Homo sapiens: one gene and its partners. The protein of the gene in region 2 interacts with the protein of the main gene of each other region in a biochemical or structural test. Each region holds a gene or a part of one and is shown on either strand. Other genes may lie near its edges. The genes, in order: AGFG1, VAMP7 and ANKRD27.

Evidence for each region.
Region 1: the proteins of VAMP7 (region 2) and AGFG1 form a complex in vitro, tested with the Homo sapiens proteins (one study listed by IntAct).
Region 3: the proteins of VAMP7 (region 2) and ANKRD27 form a complex in vitro, tested with the Homo sapiens proteins (one study listed by BioGRID).

Annotation. Positions count from the first base shown.
Region 1 is NC_000002.12:227,516,940-227,524,649, forward strand, and holds part of AGFG1 (arf-GAP domain and FG repeat-containing protein 1), read left to right. Parts: intron 1-3,008; coding exon 3,009-3,124; intron 3,125-6,823; coding exon 6,824-6,986; intron 6,987-7,710. UniProt on the Homo sapiens protein: Required for vesicle docking or fusion during acrosome biogenesis. May play a role in RNA trafficking or localization.
Region 2 is NC_000023.11:155,884,049-155,891,758, reverse strand, and holds part of VAMP7 (vesicle-associated membrane protein 7), read right to left. Parts: intron 2,302-7,710; 5' UTR 2,293-2,301; coding exon 2,147-2,292; exon of another isoform or gene 2,131-2,146; coding exon of another isoform or gene 2,126-2,130; intron 1-2,125. UniProt on the Homo sapiens protein: Involved in the targeting and/or fusion of transport vesicles to their target membrane during transport of proteins from the early endosome to the lysosome. Required for heterotypic fusion of late endosomes with lysosomes and homotypic lysosomal fusion.
Region 3 is NC_000019.10:32,636,833-32,644,542, forward strand, and holds part of ANKRD27 (ankyrin repeat domain-containing protein 27), read right to left. Parts: intron 7,648-7,710; coding exon 7,493-7,647; intron 6,800-7,492; coding exon 6,740-6,799; intron 6,653-6,739; coding exon 6,599-6,652; intron 6,521-6,598; coding exon 6,455-6,520; intron 6,368-6,454; coding exon 6,291-6,367; intron 5,314-6,290; coding exon 5,192-5,313; intron 3,554-5,191; coding exon 3,475-3,553; intron 2,657-3,474; coding exon 2,524-2,656; intron 1-2,523. UniProt on the Homo sapiens protein: May be a guanine exchange factor (GEF) for Rab21, Rab32 and Rab38 and regulate endosome dynamics.

The DNA of each region.
Region 1 (7,710 bases), on a different chromosome or scaffold from region 2:
TTATGAATGTAACTGATAAATCTTTAAAAATCTTAAAGAATTACATTTTGGGAGAATCATTAGTTAGGTTTCTGCCTGAGGAGAGTCCCATGTAGTTCTTTGTAAGTGGCTAAATATTGGACAAGCTGGGTCTCTTAAAGGTCTGTAGTATTTCTGGCAGTAAGTTGTACTAATGTTCCTGGATGTCTGTACTTCTCAGGCGTTGCCAGTGAAATGTTTTCATAATGGATTGTGCCTTACTCTAGTTCTCACTCGTTTTAACTGTCACTTCCTAAATGACTTTATAGTATCTGTACTGAGCCTGGAATAGGAAGGAACCACAAGAAATATATATATAGACAGACAGACACGGAGTCTCACTCTGTCATCAGGCTGGAGTGCAGTGGCGCAATCTCGGCTCACTGCAACCTCTGACTCCCGGGTTCAAGCGATTCTCCTGCTTCAGCTTCTGGAGTAGCTGGGGTTACAGGCATGCGCCACCATGCCCAGCTATTTGTTTTTTCTGTATTTTTAGTAGAGGTGGGGTTTCACCATGTTGGCCATGATGGTCTCGATCTCCTGACCTCATGATCCGCCTGCCTTGGCCTCCCATAGTGCTGGGATTACAGGCGTGAGCCACCACGCCCGACCCACAAGAAATGTTTTGAAACAGATTTGGGGACATGATAGGAAAGGAGAAGGGCAAGTCCTTTCTCCTAACCTTTCTCTTATTTCTCCCATACCCAGTTCAGTGAGCAGGTAAGATTGAGAAGTACGCTTTTCCTTCCCTGATTTCTTAAATACTTGTCAGGGTTTTTGAAACCAGATACTATGCTCTTTTCATAGTGTCGTAATTGCTTATTCTTTAGAATAATGTATTTTGGAAACTCGTGGACTTGTTTTTGATAATTTTGCTGAGGAATAGTTGATAACTTGGATATTTAAACTGATAACGTGTACATACTTAAAGTGTACAATTTGATGAGTTTTGACATTTGTATGTATCATGAAACCACTACCACAATAACAAGATAGCATATATTTTCATTGTGCAACCCTTTGTAATGAATCCACTGATCTGCTTTTCATCGCTGTAGACTGGTTTACATTAAAAATTTAAATGAATGGAAATATGCAGTATATACGTTTTGGTGGGGGGGTGCACATGTTTCTTTCAGCATAATCTTGAGGTTTATTCATGTTTCTTGTATTAATGGTTTTCTCCTTTTAATTGCTGAATAATGTTCTTCTTTGGATATTCTCCCATTTGTTTATTCACTTGTTTATGAACAATTGGGTGATTTCCAGTTTGGGGTTATTATCAGTAAAGCTGCTACAAATATTTATGTACAGTCTGAGTGTGGAAAAGTGCTTTTATTTTTCTTGAATAAATACCTAGAAGTAGAATGGCTACATCATATGCTAGGTCTATGTTTAACTCTTGAGAAACTGCCAAATGTTTTCCAAAGTGCTTACACCATTTTACATTCTAAAGAATTCCGGTTGTTCCACATTGTTACCAACACATGATGCAGTCACACTTTGTTTTCGGCTTTTCTAGTAGTATATGCATGTCTGTCTTGTGGAGTCTCAGTGTCTTTTTTTTTTTTTTTTTTTTTTTAAAGACAGAGTTTTGCTCTTGTCGCCCAGGCTGGAGTGCAATGACATGATCTTGGCTCACTGCAACCTCCCCTTCCTGGGTTCAAGCCATTCTTCTGACTCAGCCTCCTGAGTAGCTGGGATTACAGGCATGCACCACTACGCCTGGCTAATTTTTTTGTATTTTTAGTAGAGATGGGGTTTCACCATTTTGGCCAGTCTAGTCCCGAACTCCTGACCTCAGGTGATCCGCCTGCACCCGGCCTCAGTGTCATTTTAATTTGCATTTTATGCATGACTAATGATAGTGGGCTGCTGATATCTTTGGTGAAGTGTTTGTTCAGACCTTTTGCCCCCGCTTTAAACAAGTGTTGGCTGGGCATGGTGGCTCGCGCCTGTAATCCCAGCACTTTGGGAGGCTGAGGCGGGCAGATCGCTTGAGCTCATGAGTTCGAGACCAGCCTGGGCAACATGGTGAAACACCATCTCTACAAAAAATACAAAAAATTAGCCACCTGTGGTGCTGCACTCCTGTAGTCCCAGCTTACTCAGGAGGCTGAAGTGGGAGGATGGCTTGAGCCTGGGAGGCAATAAGCTGAGATTGCACCACTGCACTCCATCCTGGGTGATAGAGACAGACCTTTTCTCAAACAAACAAAAACCAAAACAAGTGTTGGGTTATCTGTCTTTTATAATTGAGTTGTAGGAATTCTTTATATATTCCAGTTTCAAGTTCTTATACATTTTACAAATACTTTTGATCAGTTGGTGTCTTGATTTTTGTACTTTTTAAGTTTTTTTGAAGAATAGTTTTTTATTTTGATGAAGTCTGCTTTATCAGTTTTTCTCTTTATAGTTCTTTTTGTGCTATTTTATTTCATTTCTCTTTTGGTTTTTCTGAAAGTTAAATATCTCAGATTCTCATTTTTTAGCTATTGGACCAAAAATGCATAGGAGACAGCTATAAAGCTAATAGTGTGTTTGCCTTATATTTGTGTTTATTGTTACAATTTTAAAGTGTTTATGATTCTAGTATTTTTGTTTGTTCTTTTTGGTTTTTTAGACTTGCTAAAGGGCCTGTGAAATAGCCATTGGTTCAGTTCCTTTGTTTTGTAAGGGAACTGAGCAGGTTACATGACTTTGCTAATGGTGAAGTTTATGATTATGCCAAGACTGAAAAGACCCCAGGTCCTCTGAAATCCCACTTCACTCTTCATTTCCCCTTTTTAATGATTTTGTTGCTAAAATTTTACTGCATACTGCAACATATTAAAAATAAATTTAGTTCCTGTTTATTAGTATCCTCATTGAAAGCATATTATTAAAATTATTATGTAGATTAGCTTCCTGAAAGAATCATAGTATCCCCTTAAAATTTCATTAAGTGAAGATGTTGAATTTAACATATATTTTTTTAATTCTTTCCAAAGGTCTGTAAACAGATTTGGCTAGGATTATTTGATGATAGATCTTCAGCAATTCCAGACTTCAGGGATCCACAAAAAGTGAAAGAGTTTCTACAAGAAAAGTATGAAAAGAAAAGATGGTGAGTGAAGAGTTTGTATGTAGAATAAAGCCTCCCCAAATCACATATTAACTATGGGTAAGGTTAGTCTGACACAATGAAGGATAAAAGACAGACAGTGAGAACTAGATAGGTATATAATTCATTATCCCTTGGCTTTTTGTTGGTTTGGTTTCTGAAAACCTTTACTTCTACTTTATCTTAACTCATCTGTTCCTGGCAGCAGGCTTTTTGTTGTAATAATTACCAGGAAAGTTAGGGATTCTTCCTTCTAATCATTCCCTATCTCTGTTAGCTTCTTTAAATATGTTTTGCCCTACAAAGCCTCCGTTCTTAAAAATCATTAATTTAGCAAGTATTTACTGAGTCATATCTTTTTTTAATTTATTGAGTTTCATCTTCTGTATACTAGGCACTATGCTAAAGCTCTGGTGTAGTAATCCATCTACTTAATTGTCTGTTGTAGCCTTTGCTCAAAATATTTTTTCTTTTGACCTAAGAAATCAGTTTACTTTCTGGTTAAGAAGGGAGCATTTACTTTTCCCTAACTAAATCTATCAGATGTTAATTTTTAAAAATTAATTCCAACAGGTTGTACATATAGCTAGTAAGCCCCTTGCTATGGAATAGGGACTATATCTATAAAGCTAGTGTTCAGCTACTGAGGGTTCTTCATTTTTAGCTATATGAGCACAATTTAAGTTACTAAGACTCATTAACTATGAACTTTTGGTTATTTCTTTAATAGTATTGCATAGTGGATACTTTCATCTTGGGAGGTTAACAAGATGGGGCAGAGAGTCAAAATAGAGGGAATAAATAATGGGGAAGTAACGAGCTTCTTGTTTGCTTGAGGAACTCTGTTTCAACCCAAGAGAATCTGTTCAGAGCCTGTTTTGGTCCTGAGGGAACATTTGTTGTGGTTTACAGCAGAGGTCTTTACCTTCATTCAGGAGCACATTAGCTCTGACTTGCATGCTCTATCAAAATTTGTATTCTTACTACTTTCCAAAATAGACTACATTTTTCTTTTTTTTTTGGAGACTGAGTTTTGCTTTTGTCACCTAGGCTGGAGTGCAATGGTGCGATCTCGGCTCACTGCAACCCCCGCCTCCTGGGTTCAAGCAATTCTCATGCCTCAGCCTCCCAAGTAGCTGGGATTACAGGCACCCACCACCACGCCTGGCTAATTTTTTGCATTTTTAGTAGAGACAGGGTTTCGCCATGTTGGCCAGGCTGGTCTTGAACTCCTGACCTCAGGTGATCCACCTGCCTCAGCCTCCCAAAGTGCTGGGATTACAGTTGTGAGCCACTGTGCCCGGCCTAAAATAGACTACTTTTTGCAAGGCAAGATTAGTCAGGGCTATATTCAGCTGTACTAGAAGACATCAAGTATGAAAATAGATTAAAATACACCAGTAAAATTTAAGTTCAGGAAAGAAGAAAATACTAGAAGGTGGGTTGGTAGTAAAAATATGGTAGCATAAATGATTCTTTTAAAATGAAAGGTATAATTATCCTTTTATCATTTTGGTTCTGAATTTCCTAGACATTCTACCCTGTAGGAAAGACTGTTCTCCTTACATAGCCCTAACCTAGTTTTGTTTTCTCAGCCGTGTTACTTTTACCAATTCAGAAAGTGAGTTTGGTTAGGGATTAGTTTATGGTCAGCTCTAGCTATCAACAGAAAAGTGAGTGTGAGTAACAGTTGGTAGAATTAAAATCATAGATCCTTACCCCCACATTTATAACAGTAATGTATTATTCATTCAAACTATAACGCAAATACCTAGAAACCTCAAATAATTACAGTTTATGTTATTTTTTTTCTTTCCTGAGAAACAGGATAATAAGAGTTATACAAATAGAGACTTCAAGTGGTGGGACAGGTGACCATCATTAAGAGGGCCAGGACCTGTATGTTTTTAATCCAGACTGCTGCACACCTGTAACATACAGCTAGCAAGCAGTGAAATTGGTTTCTAACATGGAATAAGCACTATCCAGATGCAGCATCTCTAAAAATACTCACTGTAACTATACTTAAAACAGTGATGATGGTGTTATCCAAAGGGATTTTGAAACTGTTCTTTTGACCAGTTCTCAAAATCACTTTCTGTGTTATACTAGAAGACATCAGGTATGAAAATAGATTAAAATACACCAGTAAAATTTAAGTTCAGGAAAGAAGAAAATCCTAGAAGGTGGGTTGATAGTAAAAATATGGTAGCATATTACTTTGCCAGGTGAGTCTTTTGAACCAATAACTATCATTTGATTTTATCCTTTGATAAGACTTGGCTATACTGAAGAATTTGTATTAGTAGTATGCTAAATTATGGGAAAATATAACTTCTTGTATTCATTCTCATACATCTTTTATCTCTCCCATTTACTTGAAAGCAGTTGTTTGTGATTATTATGTAGTTTAGTGACAGTGAACACTTAGTTAACACGTATACCAGGAATTGTTCTCAGTGCTTTACAAATGTTAACTTGTTTAAACCTAGGCAACTCTGCCTCTCCATTTTATAAATGAAAAAAATGGAAGCACAAAGAGTTGAAGTATTAATAGTTTGCCCAAGGTTTCACAGCCATTTAGTGGTAGAGCTGGGATTTGAACTCTTGTCTCTGGAACAGGTGCTCTTAAGCATGGTTTTCCTTCTTTCCTCACCTACTTCATATGGGGAATAAGAAGGAGGGTAGGACAAAACCCAGAATTACAAAGAGCAAAAGCTCTCACATAATCCCACACCTAGAGGTCAGGATTGCCTATGTTTGGACATTATTATATCCTTGCTACCTCTCCTTTCTTGACTCGCCTCCTCACATAAATCATGTGTTTATATGACTGGAATCAAATCTGAAAGACCTGTGAAGTTTCCTCTTTCCATGTCAAAGCAGAGTAGCTATGAGTATTGTATTATCGTAAATTTTTTTTCCTTGATAGATGTTGGGTTTGTTTCCCAGTTTTTGTGAAATTATAAAGAGAGGACTGTGGTTAACATCCATGTGTACATGCATCTGTATACACTTACCAATTCTTAAGGATGTTTCTGGAAGTGGCACTTCTGGTGCACAAAGCACACCTATTTATATATTTTAGTAGGTAGCAATAAAAAATTGTAAAGTTCACACTTAGCTCATAGGTGAATAAAACCTTAATTTGCATTTTTGTCAGGTTAAAAGTGTTTTCATTTTTGTGTCTCCTGTCTTCTGTGAATTGCTTCTTTTGTTCATTTAAAATGGGATGATCTTATTCTTACAGATGTAATAAGCCTTTATATTTTAGGCTGTTAACTGTAATATTACAAATGTTTTCCTACCTCATCTTTCTTCAAATGTTATTTAGATCTTAAGATAATTTTAAAAATTATAGTATGAACTATTCATGGTGATGACTAATTGTAGGTCCTCTGTTTAAAAAAAGCAGTTATTTCTTATATTGTACTTAATATCTTAGAAAAACCATAAATAAGTAATTGAAACAAGTTTTGTGGTTAGTCTTCTCTTTTCTCTGAGTATTTCAAATATTTAATGGGTGTAGTCTTAAGCTGTCGTTCCTTTTTTAAAAAATATGCAAAGTTATTCTGTGTGAGAGGGTTTTCAGATAAGATTAATGGTGAAACAATCTTGTACAAAGTTAGAATTAAGCTTATCATTTTTTGATATAGAATTACCTACATTTTTTTTTAGTTAACTGTTTTTTACATGTTTTAGGTATGTCCCGCCAGAACAAGCCAAAGTCGTGGCATCAGTTCATGCATCTATTTCAGGGTCCTCTGCCAGTAGCACAAGCAGCACACCTGAGGTCAAACCACTGAAATCTCTTTTAGGGGATTCTGCACCAACACTGCACTTAAATAAGGGCACACCTAGTCAGGTGAGTAGTCTTTGAATCTTTGTAGGGAATTCGACTTAAAGAGGGCTTGAGTATCAAGAATTTGAGAATTGTTTAAGACAGCAGCATAATCTTGTATGCCAGTAGCATTATGTTCCAATGGTTTGTTATACATTAAGAAATTGTTGGTTAAGTGGTTGAAATGTATATATACTTGTTCTTTTTGCTATTGCTAATATGAGTTTCTTTGACTTCTCTGCAACTTTGTAAAGGTGAGTTATACAGGAATGTTGCTATAGCTATATATATGTGTGTGTGTGTATACATGTATATATCATGTGTTATACAATTTGTAAAACATGAATCTATGGTGACCATCAGAGTTAGAATGTATAGTCTCTTTGATACACTTTTCTAGGAAGGGATTTCTTTAGTAGTAGAGTTTTCCCACATGTGTGATTGTGAAGCATGTTGATCATTGAAACACAAGGGACTTTGCATTATACCTTATTCTTAAAAATGAACAAAATGGAATATTTTCATAAGTTGCTACCTAAAGTTTGTCTTCTACACTTTATTATAGTTGATGGGGCTGTGACAGATCTGTTACTGTGTGGCATTGCAGCCTCTATCCTATACAAGAATGGTTCAGAGGCGTAGTACTGTGGATTAAATCCTGCCCTTTTTGATGACACATACTAAGACATTTAGATAAATTTCTCTGTTTTCACAAAAGATTGAGTGAAAAATGAGAAAGGTTAACTCA
Region 2 (7,710 bases):
GGAAAAACTTCCTGGAGAACAAAGCCAGGAGTCAGGGAAAAAGGGTGAGGGAGTTCCTCCAAGAAAGCAGAACCACTAACCACTTCCTGGTCAGAATAGGGAGTCTTTGAAATTGTGTGAGGCAATTATTTGATCATTACTGGAAAGCAATGACTTCTACATGTTTCTCATTCTTCCCTTTTCCAAATGGGAGTTTGTAACTCTCACTGTGATGATCCTTTTCTTATTTCACCATTGTCTACTGGGTTAGGCTGGGAAAGCAGGGAAAACATATGACTTATCTTTTACTTTATGGTCAGTGGACCACAGGAGCCACACCAGGGCCTGATGGATAGGACTGTGTACCACCTAGACATGCTGGACTTGGAGCCAAACACAGTGACTAGATAGGTCTTTGGAGCTACCTCTCTCAGAGAAGAGGCGTATTCTATGTTTGGGAAGAAAGGTTCACTGAAATATCTGGGTGGCCAGGAGAGTAGACTGGAAGACTGCAAGTCATCCCCTGATATCCTATAACTTCCTCCAGAGTAACAGAGTTTTAGTTGAGCCTACGACTACATAGCCAGAGATGACAATTCCTGGCCTCCCTTCTAGCTATGCTAGCTACATGACTGTGTAGTGAACAGTAAGATGTAAGTGGAAGCTTCTCAACAATATCAGGCCACTTCTGGGCCCTGCCTTTAAAATTACTGGGCAAGCACTGGGATATAACAAGCACCAAAGGAGCTGCCTTGGCCAGAAGTGGAAAGCACTAATTGCTTTGGGAATTAGGGAATTGGAAATGGCAGAGCCACCCCAACATCCCAAACCACTCATCTCTGGACTATCTCATTAAAATTAATACTGTATCTTGGGGGTCTCTCTCATAGTAGCTTAGAGTACACCTTAAACTGTATAAGGGGTTAGCCATAGAAAGTAATAAGGACCTCATTCTGAGATAAGAACTAAGGAAGTAAGGCTGGGTTAAGTAAGAAAAGATTTTTAAGTGCCAACGGGGAAGGTTGAGGCACTTTTTAAAACTAATTACTAAGATTTCCCAACTATGGCCACTCTAATAAGCCACCAGAGTGATCTTTCTAAAGCAAAAACTGACTGAAGGGCCAGGGGCAGTGGCTCACGCCTGTAATCCCAACGCTTTGGGAGGCCAAGGCAGGCGAATCACCTGAGGTCAGGAGCTTGAGACAAGCCTGGCCAACATGGTGAAACCCCAACTCTACTAAAAATACAAAAATTAGCTGGGCATGGTGGTGCACGCCTGTAATCCCAGCTACTCAGGAGGCTAAGGCACGAGAATCATCTGAACCTGGGAGATGGAGGTTGCAGTGAGCCAAGATCGCACCACTGCACTCCAGCCTGGGTGACAGAGTGAGACTCTGTTTCTAAATAAATAAATAAATAAATAAATAAAACAAACCTGACTCTGTCACACCCTGGCTGAAAACCTTCAATGCCTTTCCACTGCCCACAAGGTAAAGTCCAAGCTCTTAATATGGCCTACAAGGCCCTACATGACTTTTCTTCTACCCATCTCTCTAGCTTTATTTTCACCATCCTGGGCACCAGTCACAGAGAACAGTCTGCAGTTCCCTAAATATGCCCGCCCTATGATCTCATGCCTCCATACTTCTCTACCTGCTGTTCCTTCTACTTGGAATACCATTCTCCTATCTACTACTTCCCATCCCCCCAACCCTTGACATCGTGGATTTGACTTTCTCCCTCATTAAACTATAACCCTTATGAGGGCAAATACCACATATCTTGTTATATCCCCAGCACCAAGCAAAGTGCCTGGCAATAGTTAAGTGCTCAGTAAATATTTACTGAAAGAATGAACAAAGGAACATTATCTATCTTATCTGAATTATTTTCACATATCACACAGCTCTAGAGCAAAGTCATTTTTACATTTAACATTTCATCTTTCTTCAAAATAAAATATCACTTCAATAATAGAATAAAATAATTACAAGTTAAATTTATAAGTAACAAAACCAGATATATTTTCTAAGTTGGTGAAGGTTACTATTCTGTCAGCTTATTCAAATTATGTACCTAGAAGCTTGTTTTCTACTTTTCTACCGTTCTGATTAGAGTAACAGAATTCCCTTCTTTCATCCCTTACCACATGCAGAACAGAACTCACTTGCCATGTGAGTACGTTAGTTTGTTATTTTCAGAAGGTATCTTAGCCAGAATCTGCTCTGTCACCTCCAGGAAGTTTCCTCCACACCAAGCATGTTTGGCAAGGATAGTGGTCCCCCTGGCAACAACAGCAAAAAGAATCGCCATGGCTTCAGTCTATCAAAAGGAAAAAGACACAGATTTAGAATATTTCTTTGACATAATCTTTCAAAGGTAACTTACTATCATTTATCAACATACTACCTGGAGATAGTATCTAACGAGGCACTATAACATGAAACTTAACAACAGACTTAAGAGCAGGCTTAAAAAGAAGGTCAAAGTTTTCTACAAACTTACAACCTAAGCCATGCTTGTATGCATTCATATAAAGAGACATACAAAACACATACACACACACACACACCATTGATAGCTTGCATTTACAAATTATTATAGCACAAACAGATATCACCCTTTTGAAAAGCAATGACTATAGATAGCAAAGGGACATAAAGATGTCTTCATTCTTTAATGTAGAAATTCCATCCTGAAAATTTATCCTAGAGAAATAGTTCAACAGAAGTTAAGACTCTAGATTCACAAAGATAACTATTAACAATAAAAATAGCCTATATTTATTGTTTACTATGTGCCAGGTACCATTTTAAATACTTTATAATTATTAATCCATTTAATCCTCACAACTCAATGAGATTATACACTATTATGATACTTCTATTATAGATGAGAAAACTGAAGCACAGATGACTTAAATAATTTCCCCCAAATTACAGAGCTAGTAAGTGTGGAGCTGCAATTTAAACCTAGGCAGTATGGTTCTAGAGCTCATAATCTTAGCCTTTTACTGTACACTGCCAGTATAAAGGCATTATCCATAACAGAAACAAAGTGAAAATAACTCAAAGCTTCCACAAGAAAGGAATGGTAAGACCCTTCATAAACAAAACATTACTAAAACCATATGGCATGAGTTTAAGATTATTTTCCTTATGTCTGCCTATGAATATGTGCTATTATTTCCCACCTAACAAGCCCAGCTTCTCTTATTTAATGGCATAAACATAAAAAGAGATGAACAAATCCTTGTCTAGTCTTCGATTAACTGTTAAACCTACTCTTATTTGTTAACATGCTCAGTACCCAACATACCAGTGGTTCTCAAACTGTAGTGGGAATACGAATCATCTTGTGTGGCAGAGTATGAGTCATTTGCTAAAAATTCAAACTCTTGGCATCACTTCCTGAAATTCTGATTCCGTAGGCCTGAGGTAGGGCCCTGGAATCTGTATTTAATACAAGTCTGTCTGGATGCAGGTGATTCACACAAACATACTTTGTGAAACACAACAGCAAACTATAAACTGTTTGAGATCAAGGAATGTGCAGATTCCTTATTGCAATCCCAGCATGGAAGGACAGCACACAGAGCAGAAGGTGCTCATCTGTCTCTTGGGCTGAATGCCTTTTGGGGATCTCTTTTTCATTCCTACTCTCTAACTGAAGTTGTTCCCCAGGGTTGTGATCTCAACCATCTTCTTTCTAGAATTCTCCTTACACATATGCAGTAAGTTATAGTTTCCAAATTGCTGTCTTATACTTTATCTCCCTTGATCCTAAAGCCTCCCTAACTGTGGATCCTACTGTTCTGTTTCTTTTCTTTTTTTTTTTTTTTTGAGACAGGGTCTTGCTCTGTCACCCAAGCTCCAGGCTAGAGTGCAGTGGCACAATCTTGGCTCACTACAGCCTCCACTTATCAGGCTCAAGTGATCCTCCTACCTCAGCCTCTGGAGTATCTGGGACTACAGGTGTGTGCCACCATGTCCGGCTATTTTTGTATTTTTTTTTGTACAGACAGGGTTTCACCATGTCACCCAGGCTGGTCTTGAACTCCCGGGCTCAAGTGATCCACCTGCCTTGGCCTCCCAAAGTGCTGGGATTACAGGCATGAGCCACCGTACCTGGCCCTGTTCTGTTTCTTCAAAGCATCGTTACGCATTATCTCTGCTCCTCTGCCTCCTTTCAACTCTTCTACTTACTATAATCCAGCTTTTGCCCTTAAAACTCCAGAAAACCATGCTTCCTAAGGTCACCAACAGCCTCTATATTGCAAAATACAGTGGTTGCTTCTCTATTCTTACCTTACTTGACCTCTTAGGCACAGTCAACACTGCTGACCGACCCTCCTTCTTGAAATGCTCCTACATCTCTGGCTGCTCTTTTTGTCTTCTTGCTGACTCTTCCTCCTCTACCTGACCTCTAAATGTCGACTTTCCTCCGGGACTGATTCTGTGCCCTTTTATTCCCAGATGAGCTCAGTTAGATCTGCCATTTTAAACATGATTTATTTGCTGAAGATATATTGCATACAGAAAAAAAAAATAGTGCCAAAGATAAAACCCAAAGCACAACCAACAGTTGAGGGAAAGGTAGATAAATAGAGACTCACAAAGACTGAGGAGGACCAAATGGGAAAGCCAAAAGTGTGGTGGCCCAGAAGCCGAAAGGAAAGAAAGAGAATGAAGACTGTAAAACAATCAGTGAAATTTTATAACAAGGAAGGAGGTCATTGCTTAGGGTCAAAGAGACACAGTAGAGAGGAACAAAAACACAAAGAGAAACAGAGATAAGAAATCATATGGTCCCTGGAACAGAGAGATGAAAAAGTAGCAGCAGCCTCAGTCCCTGTGCAGGTTCAGAAGGAAACTTGACCTTGGCAACAATTAATACAAAAAGATCTAGTGTTTCAGTGGACTGTAAGTTCATTATGAACCAACGGTATGCGATATTGCTTAAAAATGCTTACATAATCTCAAAGTACATTAAGAAATAGGGTGTCTTGACCTGTTTAAGTACTAGTCCCATTACACTCTGTGCTGGTTAGAACATATGTAAAATACTGAATTCAATTCTGGGTAGAATATTTAACGACTAGACAAAAGGGAGGCAATACAATATGGGTGAGAGACATGGAGATTGTGTCATCTGAAGACTGGCTGGAGGAACTAGAGATATGTAACATGAGAAAGAGAGGACTTAGAGGGAACATGACAATAGTTTTTGAGTTTATATAAAGTACAGTCACCTGGAACAGGGAGCACATTATTCAGAATATAACTAGGAACAATGAATATAAGTTATACGCAAGTAGTGTTTCTTCCAATAAAAGCAGTCCCCAACTTAAAAATGACTGTTAAACAGTGGGTACATAGCAACAGAAACTTTACTTTCCTTCCAGATGTCACTAATAGGAATTCCTTCCTCTCTGCTATACTGCTAAAAATCCCACCTATGAAGTCTTACCTGCCCCCATTGTAAGTGTCTTGTAATAGAATCCATAACGTCTTGATGAGTATTGGGATAACAGAAACAATTGTGGCACAATGAACACTGCACTTGAAGTTAGAAAACCTGGCTCTGCTAATTATTAGCAGTATGTAAATGCCTAATAAACCATAAAGTGCTATATAAAGATAAGATCCAAGAAGAAAAAGAATGAAAAGATAAGCCAGAGAGAGAAGGGAAGAAAAAAAGATAATGCAACATAAAGGAAAGCCCCATATCAACACTGTTCCTCTTTGTTCTCCTATTCACTCCCCACTTGGTCCCACAGCCACCATCCCAATTCTACTTTATTCCTGCTAAGAATCCTGTATTAGTTTCTTGTAGCTGCAGTAATAAAGTACCAAAAACTTGGTTGCTTAAAACAACAGAAATGTATCGCCTACCAGTTCTGAGGGTTAAAAGTCCAAAATCAAGATGTTGGCAGGGTTATGCTCCCTCTGAAACCTGTAGAAGAGAATCTTTCCTTATCTCTTTCTAGCTTCTGATAGTTTGGTGGCAATCCTTGGTGTTCCTTGGCTTGGAGGTGCAGCACTTCAATCTTTACCTCTGTAGTCACATGGTGTTCTCTGTATCTGTGTCTTCACACTGCATTCTCTCTGTCTCTCTTCTTTTATATGGATGCCAGTCATATTGGATAAAGGGCCCACTCTACTCCAGTATGACCCCATTTTCAATTACATCTTAATTACATCTGCAAAGATCCTATTTCTAAATAAGATCCCATTCACAGGTACCACGGGTTAGGACTTCAACACAGCTTTCTGGAGGACACAATTCAACCCACAACAAACCCCCATTTTAAACTGATACTACACCTGATCTTAGCCAAAAGGCTGACAAGCAATGCAAACTTCCATTTTAGAAACTCACTGTTCATCCCAAATAAATCCTACCCTTCCCTTTCCAGATACTCATATCACCCAACTTGCCTCCCTCTCTAAAACCTCTGTCCCTTCGTTTTCCTTGCTCATATTGGAGGACTGTCCTTAGAGCTAAGGGCTAGAAGGGTCACCCACAACAGTTTGGAGTTAGAAAAGCCTGTTTTTACTATGTTAAGGGACTAAAGAAAGGATATTTTTGTTCTAGTTGTTGGGTTTCTAAAAAAAGATATGCTATAAGGGAATTCAAATGAGAATTATAAATGCAGTTTTTTAATAGAGGAATTATTGTAAATTGTGGGGAAGGTCTTCGAGTCCACTAAATTAAAAGTTAATAAAATGATACTGGTTGGCATAACAGTGTAAATGTCATGGATAGCATTATTTATAGAAGGAAATGCATCCAGCGTTCCAAACAATAAGCTTACAACAGTACTTTTAGAATATATCCATTTGTAAGTAAGAAATTGCCTGTATTAAAAAATTTGGTAATAACATAGAACAGCAATGATGAAAATGCTCCTCCTCAGCAGAAGCATCTTCAAGTAGAGGCTGAAGACAGTTTCAGGTAACTGAGTAAGGGGAAAGGCCAAGTCCATGTGTTTTGAGAAATCTTTTAATTCTGCATTTGTATTTTGATAACACTGAAAAATGTATAAGAATATTCTGGATCATCTACATGTGTATCTTATAAACGAGCAATGGCACACAATTCAGTGCTGCACTTGCATTCCTGTCTATAAAGAAATAGGTGTCAATAAATCACCTAAAATAACAATGCTTAATGTTTACATCTTAGAAGTATCTGGCTGATCTTAGGTTGGCACATCCTAAATTCACGACAGTCATGACTCAAGCACTCTTGTACTGCTGTTGTTTTTAATCAGTTATAAAGACAAAATTTGTCTTTTGCAGTAATGATTTACAATTGAAAGATACCTGCATGGAATAAGACTTTAATTTTGGCTGGGCGCAGTGGTTCATGCCTGTAATCCCAGCACTTTGGGAGGCTGAGGCGGGCGGATCACCCAAGGTCAGGAGTTCGAGACCAGCCTGACCAACATGGAGAAACCCCGTTTCTACTAAAAATACAAAATTAGCCAGGCGTGGTGGCGCACGCCTGTAATTCCAGCTACTTGGGAGGCTGAGGCAGGAGAATCGCTTGAACCCGGGAAGTGGAGGCTGAGGTGAGCCAAGATCATGCCATTGCACTCCAGCCTGGGTAACAAGAGCAAAACTCTGTCTCAAAAGAAAAAAAAAAGTTTAATTTTAATACTTGAGGCTTTTATCTGACATCCTGAAAATGACAATGTGGCAGAATAACATTACCACTTAAATTACC
Region 3 (7,710 bases), on a different chromosome or scaffold from region 2:
TGCCTCCCGGATTAATGCAATTCTCCTGCCTCAGCCTCCCAAGTAGCTGGGATTACAGGCACCTGCCACCACACCCAGCTAATTCTTGTATTTTTAGTAGAGACAGGGTTTCACCATGTTGGCCAGGCTGGTCTCGAACTCCTGACCTCAGATGATCCACCTGCCTTGGCTTCCCAAAGTGCTGGGATTACAGGCGTGAGCCACCGTGCCCGGCCCAGCACACAATATAATTTCAATTATGTAAAATATACATGGGTAGGAAAAAGACTGAAAATGCATGAACGTGTCAATAACGAATGAATGGGGTGGAAATGCCTGCACCTGAGAGCACCTGGACAGGCTGATGCTGTCTCCCAGACGCTTTAGCTCATCATTATTTTGGGAGATTCTACATCAAAGTCTGACAAAGATGAATGTTCAATCCTTGGCACTCTCACCTTATAATACAGAGATCTTTTCATTTTATAGATTTCAACTTTGTGATTTCTGTATGATCACATTTTACTCATTGGTATGTAGTAAAACAGGCCAGCAGGACAACCATGGTTCAAGATTCTCACGATTCACATAGAAATATAATCACATCCCCTCGCCGACCCCAGCCAATGCTCAATAAAAACCAAGGAAACAATGGCAAGGCCACTGAGTCCTCAAATTGCACACATTAATGGTCTCACAGATGGCAGTGGCAGCCCATCGGGAGTGGCTGCTGCAAAGACGTAAGCTGCAGTGGAGGAAGCGCGGCCAGGTTTGTGCACTCTGCAGGGCCAACAGGAGCCAGGAACAGGCAGGAGCCCCCATCTCCTACTGAGCTGGCAGGGCGGGAGCCCTGCACTCCCAGGCGCAGCTGCAGCCGCCCAGCCGCAGCTCTGGATCCAGGAATCTCTGCACTCTCAGGGGCCCAGGAAGCATCCCTGCCGCCGCAGGCTCGTAAGTGCCTGCTCCCGCTCCTCCCCACTCCTGGCACCGACTTCAATTTCAGAGCAAAGCTGAGGCCAAGCCCGGGTACTGTTGCAACCCAGCCATGTGTGCACATGCTTGGTGTGACACTGACACACCAGCCTCCTGATGCCTCAGACCCCTCCAAGATTTTGGGCGCTGATGAGCATGGGAGAGTAGTCAAGGTAGGGGCTGAGGGCAGCTCAGTGCAGGCCTGCAGATGCCCCTTGGCACAAACAGCCTGGATGCACTGGCCAGCATGTTGATGGTGGCAGAAGGCAGACACGCTTCTGGGTGGAAAGGTGCAGGTGCCCAGTGAAGCCCCACCTTCAAGACAGGGACAGCCTAAAGCCTGGGGGCCGGGCTGTCAGTCCCAAGTGGAGTCCACGACCCAGACTGAGAACTCATGGTGCTTTCTCCAGGCCCACCTATGGACCAATCAGCACATACTCCCTCCCTTCTGAGCCATAAAAAACCCCGGACTCAGCCAGACTCAGACAGATGTCGGGACTACCAACTGCAGGAAGGAGCTACCTACGTCAGGCCTCTTTAACTCGTCAGGACGACCTGCCTGTGGAAAGAAGCTGCCCACTGTGGGTCTCCTGAGAGCTATTCTGCCGTTCAGTAAAGCTCCTCTCTGCCTTGCTCACCCTCCACTAGTCTACGTACCTCATTCTTCCTCGACATGGGACAAGAACTCGGGACCCACCAAATGGCAGGACTGAAAGAGCTGTAACATAAAGAGAGCTAAAACATGCTCCCGACTCACTACATTGCAGGTGACGAGAGGAGAGAAGAGCTCTGGCCCTTCAGGGAGCCCAACCTAGGAGTTCCCCGAGCCAGGGCTATGACACCCTCTTTGGGGCTCTGCAGTTCCTGGTGTCTCCAAGCTTCCAGGCCCCACTGTGTTCCCCAGTGCCCACCGTGGAAGCGGCCTACAGTACGCCTGCTCTAGCTGCAGCCTTGCATGGAGCAGGACCCTGTACAAGCAACTTGGAGCTGCCCACCCCACCTCAGTCGGCACACCTGGTTGTGTGCAGTGGCCAGACCCTGCACTTGCTCACATACCCCTCGCCACTCCACACCTGGCTCGCCCTTGGCAGGCATGGGATCCAGGCCAGTAGCACAAGCCGAGCGCAGCCTGCCAGGCCAAGAGCGTGAAATGAGCCCAGCAGGCCCGAACAAAACTCAGGCAAAGGAGCCACCAGCCACAGAGGTTTCCGGCTGGAAAAGCGACAGTCCAGGGATCCCGTGACATCACTTCTTGACTATCAAGGTCAAGAAATCCAAATTCCCTACTTCTGGCTTCCCTTTGCACCCACATGTCTTTGGAGAGGATGGGGACTAATGAAGTAGGATATTAACAATGTAAATCCCAATGATAACCCACCAATTTTTACCACCAATTGAGGGCTTGGTGTTCTCTTCACTGAGTGATTTTTAAGACTCACAGCCCTCAAACAGCTGAGGCCCCATTCCTGGGAGGCAATTTAAGAATCCGTCTGCCCACATACCAACCCCAGCACCCTATCAAGGGAACCATGATGCCCACAAAGGAAGGCCAGGGCAGGGGTGAGATCTTACAGGGGGTTTAGCAGAGAGGCTTCCTTGCCGAATATATTCAATGGCAGCTTCGAATGAGGTCAGGCAGTATCCCAGTTCATCCTTTGCCAAGCTGCTAAACCTGAAGTTTTTGATGTAACTCAAATTTGCCATCCTAATGAAAGGAAGAAAAAAGTTATGTTGTTGTCTATCCAAGTCACACTTCTGCAAAAAAAATATCATTGGCTTGGGCAACTGATCAAATATCTAGTCAGTTGGTTCGCTCAGGAAGCTACGACCACCATCCCCTGGATCTCTCTGCAGAGTGTGTGCGATTAGGAACACAAGTAAAATGACTAGCTAGTTCCCTGAAATAGTCTTTAGCAAGCTGATTACCGTAAACTGAGCTGTGGGTTCCAGGGGAGAGATTATGGGTTTTGGGGCCAGAAAGAATGGCAATCAGCTTTCTGCTCAACCACTGTCTAGACACTCATTCCAGAACAAGAAATGTAAGCTCTCCGGGCCTTGGTTTCCCCATCTGTAAGTGGATGGATGAAGCAAGGGGAGGCCCCACACCTAGCTCGTAACAGGTGTCCAATTGAAGATGGGCTTTTCCTAGAGTTACATTAGAACTACCACAGTGCAGTGCTGCCATTTTTTTTTTTTGAGACGGAGTCTCGCTATGTCGCCCAGGCTGGAGTGCGGTGGCGCGATTTCAGCTCACTGCAAGCTCCGCCTCCTGGGTTCACGCCATTCTCCTGCCTCAGCCTCCTGAGTAGCTGGGACTACAGGTGCCCACCACCATGCCCAGCTAATTTTTTTGTATTTTTTAGTAGAGACGGGGTTTCACCGTGTTAGCCAGGATGGTCTCGATCTCCTGACCTCGTGATCCGCCCGCCTTGGCCTCCCAAAGTGCTGGGATTACAGGCGTGAGCCACCGTGCCCGGCCAAGCACTGCCATTTTCAAAAGAGTATCTTAAAAGAAAATGTTACCAATTAGGGATCTCCGTTTTCACAAGCAAGTATAACAGGACTGATAGCAGATCATCAGCACACATGGTCTCCAGGTTCACTGCAAAGGGGAAACACACATTCAATGCCATCATGAGATTCAAATGGACTGACAAGCATATCAACTCCCTACCACCGCACACCTTGTGAAACCACGTATCAGGGAGATCATACACTGGGGGAGAAATGTCATTGCACAAGCTCCTTTACAGCGTCCTGATCAGATGTCAGGTCCAGGGGGAAAAGAATGCCCAGCAATTTCAGAACATGACCAAAACAAGGTATTAGTAACTCTAGCCAGATACGGCAGCACGTGCCTGTAATCCCAGTGCTTTGGGAGGCCGAGACGGGAGAATTGCTTGAGGCCAGGAGTCTGAGGCCAGCCTGGGCAATATAGCAAGACCCCCACCTCTACAAAAAAATATGAAAATTAGCCAAGGGTGGTGGTGCATGCCTGTAATCCCAGGTACTTGGGAGGCTGAGGCAAGAGGATCACTTGAGCCCAGGAGTTCAAGGATGTAGTGATCTACAAATGCACCCAGCCTGGGTGACAGAGTGAGACCCTGTCTCTTTTTTTTGTTTGTTTGTTTTTGAAACGGAGTCTCGCTCAGTCACCCAGACTGGAGTGCAGTGGCGCAATCTTGGCTCACTGCAAGCTCCGCCTCCCGGGTTCACGCCACTCTCCTGCCTCAGCCTCCTGAGCAGCTGGGACTACAGGTGCCCGCCACCATGCCCAGCTAATTTTTTTTTGCATTTTTAGTAGAGACAGGGTTTCACCGTGCTAGCCAGGATGGTCTCGATCTCCTGACCTCGTGATCTGCCCGCCTCAGCCTCCCAAAGTGCTGGGATTACAGGTGTGAGCCACCGCGCCCAGCCGACCCTGTCTCTTAAGAAAAAAAAAAAATATGTTAACTCCAAGCAGACCATGCCTTGCCACCCCCTTGGACGCTGAAAGAGCCCAGGGAGGTGGCTTCAGTGATAAAAAATGAAGATGAGCCCAGAGCCATCACCTAAAGTCTCTTTCTTCCTAAAGTCACCAAGGTCCTTCCTAAGGTCACTTCCATTTTATAGACATGGAGTCCACTGCCCATGTGGAGTTTCACTTTTTTTCCATTTTGAAATTTTAAGTAATTCATTCACATTTAAAAATTCAAACAATACAAAAGAGCAAACTGTGAATGTTCCTCCCATCCCTGCCAGCCAGTCTCTTTTCCCAGAGGCTCCTGCTGTTGCTTCCTGCACATCTGTCCAGGACAGCTATGAGCTCACCATCATATCGTGGCTAAACAGCTATCCCCCATTCTTTGATGCTGTTGGCTGGAAGTCTACCATATGCATTCCTGTTTATTTCATTCCATACACTCAGGATCATCCCTTATCTACACATACAGCTATGTCTCTTCCTTACTGACTTTTTCTTGACTTGTTTTCTTTTACTTCTTCTTTTTTTTTTTTTTTTTTGAGAAGGGGTCTCACTCTATCACCCAGGCTGTAGTGCACTGGTGTGATCATAGCTCACTGCAACCTCCAATTCCTGGCCTCAAGTGATCCTCCCACCTTGGCCTCCCAAAGCACTGGGGTTACAGAGGTGAGCCACTGCACCCAGCCCCATAAAAATCCCTTAAGACAGCATCACTCTTTGCTTTTTCATCTGGATGTAGCATCTACCCCTTGGCCAGTCCCCTTTCCAAGCACAAACCTCTCTGGCTTGGAGACTGTGTAATGAGCTGCACCACTTTTCGCAAGCAGACAAGCTTCTGCTGTGGGGAGGTGCATTTGTTCAGCTGAGCCAGCTCTCTTTTGGCACGAGGTATGTTAAAGCTGTAAAATAATTTGGAAAGTGACAACTTCAGAGCACAGTAAGAGAACCCTCTGGCCTGGATCTAAGAACACATCTCAGGATCTACACTTCTCACAACAAACCAGAAGGAATGAAACACAAAAACAGATACTGAGAAGTCATCTGACTCAAGTCAGCGGCAAAACAGAAGAGCCTTCAATCCCATTCAGGCTGCCAGGTGATAGAGTTGTACAAGAAAAGCTGAAAAAAAAAAATCCTATTCCTAGAGGGAAACAACCCAAAGAGGGTTGTGGTAGGTGAAACATTTTTGTGTCCTAATGAAACTTAAATTAGGCTCGGCGCAGTGGCTCACGCCTGTAATCCCAGCACTTGTAAACCAGGGTGGGCAGATCACTTGAGGTCAGGAGTTCAAGACCAGCCTGGCCAACATGGTGAAACCCCATCTCTTCTAAAAATACAAAAATTAGCAGGGCATGGTAGTGTGCACCTGTAATCCCGCTACTCGGGAGGCTGAGGCAGGAGAATCACTTGAACTCAGGAGGCAGAGGTTGCAGTGAGCCGAGATCACACCACTGCACTCCAGCCTGGGCGACAGAGTGAGACTTTGTCTCAAAAAGAATAAAAATTAAAGAAATGAATTAACTCCTAAGTAGGTATCTCTATGGCAAGGTTCCCTTGGGTGGGCAGGTGGGATGTCCCCTGCACGCAGAACCCACATGGGCAAATTACATGCCCACTTGGGGACCAGCTGCACAAAACCCCGTGCCCAGCGGCTCCCATCCAGCTGGCGTGCTGGTGCAGTGTGGGAGGGGGACGGCCACACACAGTCACCTATAAAGGGCAGCCCTTTATCTTTGGTTGCAAGTAACTGCGCTGCTCCTCAGAACTAACCACATCAAACCAGCGTGTCACCTCTGCCACCGAGAGGGCCTGCTTCCGGGAGAAGACAGCACCCCTGCCTCTGAGGACACCAAGCCGCTGTGGCGCAAACCCTTACCTGAACTCCGGTTTCACACCAATATCTTTCTGCTGAAGATCTTGAAGGCTTCTTGTGATTTTGTTAAAGGCCGCATCCTAACAACAGATTTTAACGAACCTTCAAATTTCTCAAAAAGCACAGAAGAAGGCTTCCATCTTGGGTGATAATAACTGAGAACCTACCTCACTTGCCTCCATGGTCCCCACGTATTTAAAGATCAGGTTGTAAATTTCATGATGGACGTATATCTGTGGAATCAACAGACCCCATTCAGGGTGTGAGCGGGCAACAGGGTGTGCCTCCCAGCCACTCCGCCCCACCCTCACCTCCACTGCCTGCTTCATCAGGTTCATCTGGGCCTCCTGCTTGGCGAGCATTTTCTAGAGGGCAAGAAAAGCACAGTGAAAGGGCTTGGATTTGCATGGGGGTGCACCACAATTCTCCCTCTCAGAAGTCCTGCTGCTTACCAGGTGAGAGTCCCTCAGAAGCTGCTGGAGGCATTTGGTGTAGAGAGCATTCGCTGAGTCCTAAACCACATAGAGCAGAGGGACAGGCCACCCTTACCAGCAAGGCCATGACGGGGGAGCCGGAGCGGGTAAGGCGCACAGAGCTTCAAGTGCTAACACAAGCTTTATGAAGTCAATTACGTGATTTTTCTCAACTTTTTTTTTAGGTGTATATGCATTAAAAGCAGGAGAAACTTCCCCTTGGGGTTAACACAGAGGATAATAATACTCATTGTTATACTTCCCCATGACTTTACCACTTGGTTTGTTTTTTCTTTTTAAGAGACAGGGTCTCACTTTGTTGCCCAGAGTAGAGTGCAGTGGTATGACTATAGCACGCTGCAGTCTCAAACTCCTGGGCTAAAGCCATCCTCCCACCTCGGCCTCCCAAGTAGCTGGGAATACACGTGCATGCCACCATGCCTGGCTAATTTTTGTATTTTCTGTAATGATGGGGTCTTTTTATGTTACCCAGGCTGGTCTTGAACTCCCAGCCTCAAGAGATCCTCCCATCTCGGCCTCCCAAAGTGCTGGGAAGACAGGCTTGTACCACCATGCCCGGTTAAACTACTTTTATAGTTAGAGAGAAACATTTTTAAAAGACTTCAAACAGTGAGGCAGCACCAGGCAGTTCCAGAGGAAACTGAGGGCTCCCAGCACCCTGCACTGAACCGAGACAGGGCACGCCAGGCAGAGGACAGCACGGCTACTGACTATGTGGTGACGGAGGCTCTTTCTCTCGCATTCTCGGAATGTTCGATGGAAAGAGGCGATGTTCCTGTCAAATCGCTCGGAGTGTCTTCCCAAGAACTCTCTCACATCTTCAATGGTTTTCAGGGAAAAGGGATCTGAGGGTGCCAAAGGCTCTTCTGAAAAAGAAACAAACAGGTCAGGCCGGCTGAAGCCTCTGCTGGTTCCTGACTCTGTCCTAT